2 linked regions of the Homo sapiens genome follow. The protein of the gene in region 1 interacts with the protein of each later gene in a pairwise test. Each region holds a gene or a part of one and is shown on either strand. Other genes may lie near its edges.

What was found.
Region 2: the proteins of PPP2R5B (region 1) and DZIP1 interact in a two-hybrid assay, tested with the Homo sapiens proteins (one study listed by IntAct).

The regions. Positions count from the first base shown.
Region 1 is NC_000011.10:64,927,689-64,931,188, reverse strand, and holds part of PPP2R5B (serine/threonine-protein phosphatase 2A 56 kDa regulatory subunit beta isoform), read right to left. Parts: intron 3,388-3,500; coding exon 3,286-3,387; intron 3,124-3,285; coding exon 3,031-3,123; intron 2,895-3,030; coding exon 2,764-2,894; intron 868-2,763; coding exon 808-867; intron 709-807; coding exon 600-708; intron 1-599. UniProt on the Homo sapiens protein: As the regulatory component of the serine/threonine-protein phosphatase 2A (PP2A) holoenzyme, modulates substrate specificity, subcellular localization, and responsiveness to phosphorylation.
Region 2 is NC_000013.11:95,638,207-95,641,706, forward strand, and holds part of DZIP1 (cilium assembly protein DZIP1), read right to left. Parts: coding exon 3,089-3,500; intron 1-3,088. UniProt on the Homo sapiens protein: Molecular adapter that recruits protein complexes required for cilium assembly and function to the cilium basal body.

The sequences.
Region 1 (3,500 bases):
CCATAATATGGCTAGTGTGGTGGCTCACGCCTGTAATCCAAGCACTTTGGGAGGCCGAGGCAGCAGAATCACTTGAGCCTGGGAGTTTGAGACCAGCCTAGGTAACATAGCAAGACACTGTCTCTACAAAAAAAAAATTTTTTTTAATTAGCCAGGCATGTGGCACATACATCTGTGGTCCCAGCTACTCGGGAGGCTGAGAAGGGAGGACTGCTTGAGCCCAGCAGGTAGAGGCTTCAGTGAGCCATGTTCATACCACTGCTCTCCAGCTGAGGCAACAGAGTACGGTTTTGTCTCAAAAAAAAAAATTGTGTATCAAAATCTCCCATAATAGATTTGTGTATCCAAATATTTGGGAATATAGATGGAGAAGAATGTAATTCTGCCAAGGGAGGGTAGAGAAGAAAAGCCTGGCTTCACAGAGCTGATATCTGAGGTTAGCCTTAAAGCGCCAGTGGGAATTTTCTAAGGTAGATGGAACAGAATTATAAAGACAAAGAAGGTGAGATAGGATCCCTGGAGGATCTGACCTCCAGGACCCACTGGCTGCCCTGACTGTCTGGAGCTCCTGCTGCAGCAGGGACAGGCCTGGGCCTCACCTGGGCATGGAAGACAGACAGCGACTTGACAGAGTGCAGGGGGATCAGGACGCGAACCAGGAACTGCTTGTGCTCCGTCTTCAGGGGCAGCGCAAAGCCATTGATGATGCTGAGGAGGAGGCAGAAGAGAGGAAGAGGGCTCAGGTGACCTGGCCCCAGTCCCTCCTTCCAGAATCCTGAGCTCCAGCTGAGGCCCAGGGAGAATCACCTTCCTAGGATCTCCAGCAGCTCAGCCACACCATTGAAGTGCTCGAATTCATAGATGAACCTGCAAGAGAAGAACGCAGGTGGGCTCAAAGCAAGCAGGGTAGGCCCAGTGCCCCCTTAGGCATCCTGCCTGCCCACCCTCACCTGCACGGCACGCTCATCCAACTCTCCCCCAACCCAGAGGCTGCGCTCCCTTCCCAACATCCCAAACCAGGCCCCATTGAGATCCCCGCCCCCCCACACTGAAATGCCCTTCTCAGCCCAGCCACCTCTGCCACTGAGTCCCAAGCTCAAGGCTCTCTTGCCAGTCAACCAAGAGAATGACAAACACTTAGCACATCTACTCCGTACCATGTAAGTCTCAGAATTATCCAGGGAGATGGGGCTTAAGAAATCCATCACATGGATGAAGAAATCAAGACTCAGCGGTTAAATAAAACAACCCCAATGTTAATAGGCAGGGAATCTAATGAACTCCAAGGTGCAGGAGGACAGGGATCATGGCTCACCCATTTTGTAGCTAATAACAACTAATGTTTCAGAGTCCCGGCCTCAGTCCAGGAGCTATGCTGAGTGCTTTGCAGGCAAGGCCCCATGTCACCTCGATAATGGTCCCTGAGTTAGTACAAGCAGCATCCCCATTTTTATCTTATCTTTGAGATGGAATCTCGCTCTGTCGCCCAGGCAGGAGTGCAGTGGCGCAATCTTGGCTCACTGCAACCTCCACCTCCCAGGCTCAAGCGATTCTCCTGCCTCAGCCTCCTGAGTAGCTGGGATTGCAGGTGTTTACCACCACACTCAGCTAATTTTTGTATTTTTAGTAGAGACGGAGTTTCACCACGTTGGCCAGGCTGATCTTGAACTCCTGATCTCAAGTGATCTGCCCACCTCCAACTCCCAAAGTGCTGGGATTACAGGCATGAGCCACTGCACCCAGCCAGCATTCCCATTTTAAAGACGAGCAAACTAGGAGAGAGCTTAAGTAATTTGCCAAAGTTCACCCAAACGTTGGAACCAAACTCAAATGTAGGCCATACAGCTTCAGAGCCATGGTCTCAACTACAAGGCCACGTGAGCCTTGATGCCCAGTGGGTGCTGGTGCTCAGTGCATGTTTGCAGAAAGAATCTCTCTCTGGGTCCTTATGGCCTGGCATGATAAGGGTCAAATGATTTAGCTCCTAGGCCCCTGGACTGACCCAGTCCCTGCAAACCATTTCATCTCTCTTGGCCTCTACTTTCTCATCTGTAAAATGGAAATAAATACCCATTCTCTGTCAACTTCACAGGCTTTGTATAATCAATATGTAATACGTTACTGAGAAAGGGCTTGGAAAACAGAAGTTCTACAAGGGCCCCTGCAGCCCAGGAGCCTTTGCTGCAGTCTTCTTTTTTTTTGTTTTCTTTTCTTTTTTTTTTTGAGACACAGTCTCCCCGTTGCCCAGGCTGGAGTGCAGTGGCATGATCTCGGCTCACTGTAAACTCCACCTCCTGGGTTCATCCGTCTCGCTCTGTCGCCCAGGCCGGACTGCGGACTGCAGTGGCGCAGTCTCGGCTCACTGCAAGCTCCGCTTCCCGGGTTCACGCCATTCTCCTGCCTCAGCCTCCCGAGTAGCTGGGACTACAGGCGCCCGCCACCGCGCCCGGCTAATTTTTTGTATTTTTAGTAGAGACGGGGTTTCACCTGGGTTCAAGTAATTCTTGTCTCAGCGTCCCAAGTAGCTGGAATTACAGGTGCCCACCACCATGCCTGGCTAATGTTTGTATTTTTATTAGAGACGGGGTTTCACCATGTTGGCCAGGTTGGTCTCAAACTCCTCACCTTAGGTGATCCACCCACCTCGGCCTCCCAAAGTGCTGGGATTACAGGTGTGAGCCACCGCACATGGCCTTTGCCGCAGTCTTCTAACAGCCCTCTCACCCTCCCCAGGTCTCTGCTGGGCAGGCAGCAGCCACTCACCGGAGGAAGATGTGGTTGCACTGTTTGCGGATGTAGGCCCGGAGACCCAGGAACTTGCCATAGACCCGGTGCAGGATGGTCTTGAGGTACTCACGCTCCCGGGGATCCTCACTATCAAATAGCTCCAGGAGCTGTGGGAACCAGAGTCAGGGTCAGGGTCAGGGTCAGGGGAAAGGTCCACCCCAGGTTGCTTCCATCCTATCCCTGGCCCCTCAGAGAGCCTGCCCCTGCCTTGTGGTACCACCCAGCCTGGGCTCCCCACTTCACCATCAGGACAAACTTTTGATCCACATATCTCTTGGCCACGGAGGGCTGGAAGTCTGGGCTCTCCAAGAAACGCAGGAAAAACTCATATACCAGCTGGGGGAGGGGGACAGACAAAAAGGTGAGTTCAGTAACAGCCTCACCCACTCATTCCACCCTATGGCCCTCATCCAACTGTCTAGGGGCTAAGGAGGCCCTCTCCCCATGCCTTGGATCTCTTCTGAAACTTGGATCTCTGTCTTCCCCAACCCTTCAGACCTGCAGGTGTGGCCACGAAGGCTCAAGATTGGGCTCATCCTCTTCAGGGTCAAATTCAGGGTTCTCACTGGGCGGCAGAGTCCGGAAGATATTCACTGAGATCTGAGTGGCAGAGTTGGGGTTCATTAAGGAAAAGCCCTTGAAGACAGAAGCCAGGGAGTCTCTCATTCAAAGCTTTTTTTTTTTTTTTCTTTCCCAAGACAGGGTCTCGCTCT
Region 2 (3,500 bases), on another chromosome or scaffold:
AGCCTCCCAAGTAGCTGGGATTACAGGTATGCGCCACCACACCTGGCTAATTTTTGTATTTTTAGTAGAGATGGGGTTATACCATGTTGGCCAGGCTTCTCTTGAACTCCTGATCTCAGATGATCTGCCTGCCTTGGCCTCCCAAAGTGCTGGGATTACAGGTGTGAGCCACTGCGCCCAGCCTAACCTGAGTTAAATCTAAGAGGTGGGTATATGGTATGTCTTACATTAGTCTATGCACTTTTTTGTATGTTTATAATATTTCAGTACTAATTTTTATTTGAAAATCGATGAGATTTTTCTTTTAAAATCCCCCATATATGGGTATTCACTATATTGTTGTTTTAATTTTTCTGCATTTTAAATTTTTTAAATAAAATATTGAGGAAAAAGACCTTACACATTGCCATCACTACCCCCCTTATACACAACACACACACACACACACACACACACGCACACCCCATGGGGGAAAAAACCCATTAGGATGCGTGCGTGTGTGTGTCTGTCTGTCTGTGTCTTCAAGCCTTCAAGAACAGGCATCTTTAATTTTTTTTTGTCTCAGCTACTCAGTTCTTATGATTTCTTAAAGCAAAGGGAGTAGAGACAAAGAGAAGTGGTATGAGAATGAGAATGAGACCACAATTTCTCAAAGGTAAAACTGATAATGCGGTGGACCCAATCATTGTGTCAGAACAAGGAGTCTAGGCTTTGGATTTTCTGTATAGGGGAAGAAAGAAAAACTCACATGATAGCAGTCATATGATTGTTCACATTTTGTAGTAAGTCAGCTTTAGTATTTGTCATGCCACAAAACGTTTTTCCCTCATTCCCAGGTATTAGCTAAAACAATAACTAACTACATGCCAAGCACTGCTCTAAGCACAGTCTATGCACTAAGTCATTCAATCCCCATTAACAACTGCTATATGGTAGGTACAATTAATATTCCCATTTCACAGAGTAGAAACTGAGGCACAGGGAGGTTGAGCAACTTGCCAAGGTCTGGTAGCTGAAAAAGTAGTAGGTGTCACTCATTTGATAAATTGAGTCATTACCTTTTAATCATTACTTATCATTCACATTTGAAAATCTTCTCTTAGGCCAGGTGTGGTGGCTCACGTCTGTAATCCCAGCATTTTGGGAGGCTGAGGTGGGTGGATCACTTGAGGTCAGGAGTTTGAGACCAGCCTGGCCAACACGGTGAAACCTCGTCTCTACTAAAAATACAAAAATTAGCTGGGCATGGTGGTGCACACCTGTAGTCCCAGCTACTCAAGAAGCTGAGGTGGGAAAATCGCTTGAACGCGGGAGAAGGAGGCTGCAGTGAGCCAAGACCGCACCCCTGCACGCCAGCCTGGGCGACAGAGTGAGACTCCATCTCAAAAAAAAAAAAAAAAAGAGAGAGAGAGAGAAAGAGAAAGAAAGAAAATCTTCTCTTATAACAGCCATTTCTATAGTAACCCCAAAAAAGGAAAAAAAAGTTTATAAACATACAATTTCTGTATGTTAGAGGTTTTAACATTTCACTAGATGGCTGCTAAAGCTGGACTATAATAAATCTTTAAAAATGTTTAAATAGAATCCATTATATTCGTTGCACAAGAAAAAAACCATCTTAGCACTATTTGTAAATATTTAATTTTTAAGCAGCATTTATAAAACAAATAAGCAATTAGCAATGCCCAGTGTCATTTGAAGATTATACCTCAGGGTTGTCTACCCAAGACCAAACACTAAGTCCTTCTAATAATATTCCTAATTGTTCCCTTATCTTTTTTATTTTTATTTATTTTTTTTTTTTTGAGATAGATTCTCACTCTGTTGCCAGGCTGGAGTGCAGTGGCGCTATCTTGGCTCACTGCAACCTCCGCCTCCTGGGTTTAAGCGATTCTCCTGCCTCAGCCTCCCAAGTAGCTGGGACTACAGGCACATGCCACCAAGCCCAGCGAATTTTGGTATTTTTAGTAGACACGGGGTTTCACCATGTTAGCCAGGATGGTCTCGGGTCTCAATCTCCTGACCTCGTGATCCGCCCGCCTCGGCCTCCCAAAGTGCTGGGATTACAGGTGTGAGCCACTGCACCCGGCCACTGTTCCCCTATCTTAAGAACACTCAACACTCCTGCTGGGTCAGTCCTGAGCAATATTAACTGCACCATTTTCTCTGCCCTGCACCCAGTTCTCTCCAGCATTCATGCATCAGCTCCACTATTCCTAAATCCAGTGAGGCCTTTTAAGCCATAGTCAGCCGAAAGGACTAGAAAGTAAGGGCATGACATCAATCTTGTTAATCTGTTGCTTACTTCAATATCTTTCTCAATCATTGTTTATACCTTCTGCACTTCCTCCAACTAGTCAATAAAAAAAAAATACATTGGTTTATGTTATACTCAAAAATTGCAATATTTATCTTGGACTCAATGTCTAACCCAAAACAGTAGAAGATTAAGACCAGAAGATAAAAATATTTTATTCTTTAAATACTGTTATGTAAGTGAATGTTCTTGTTCTTAGAAAATATACACATCGAAATATTTAGGATCTGCAACTCACTGTGAAATGGTTCAAAAGTAATAATAATATGTATACAGAAATAGAGGGACTGTGGAAAATGTTAATAATGGGGGAATCTGGGTGAAGGGCGCATGAAAATTCCTTACAGTCTCCTGGCAACTTTTCTGTCAGTTTGAAAGTATTTCAAAATTTATAAAAATGAGAAAAAGACCCTACAAATTTAAACATTCTGCATCGTTTGGGGACTGGCTTCAACAGCAATTTGTATATGGTTTTTTCATGTTGAGGTTGATTCGGAGGAGGAAAGTGTTTCAACAACCAGCATTTAGATAACTTCCATAAAGCACCACAGACGACATTTGTTGTTTAATTATTAATCCCCTGATTGTCTGCAGAAGGTAATGAACCATGACATTTGTTGGTTAAATGACTGTTTTTGCTTAAATATACTGTGTCTTCTGATATACAATATAAATCTTTAAGAAGAAAGAGTGGTGATACGGGACAGGCCTATCAAATGGGAACTGAGTTGTTTACTGGATTATGAATCGTGCTCACACACAGCTGCCCACCTGGTAATAGTTGGCTTTGGCCTCGATCATCAGCTGCTGGGTGGAGATCATCTTCTTCCGGCGTTTGCACTCTTCCTTGAGCGTCTTGATCTCCCCCGCCTGCTTGGTGAGCAGCTTCTTGCTCTGCTCGCCGTCGCAGTGGCTCAGGCGCAGCCGCTCCTCCAGGGTGTGCAGCTGCGAGGTGAGGAACTCTTGTGAGTGCAGCAAGTACTCGATGGTGAACTGCGCCAGACGGATGAGCTTCAGCAGCACCGGGTCCACCCCCGACTGGCAGTGTGGGCACTTCTCGTCTTCCAGCTTGCAGAAGGTGATGTTCATGATGTTCTCCTGCAGCGTCAGCACGTCCACAGCCCCCGCCACCTTGTCCACGTCGATGGCGCTCAGCCGCCGCCAGTCCACACTCTCCAGCCGC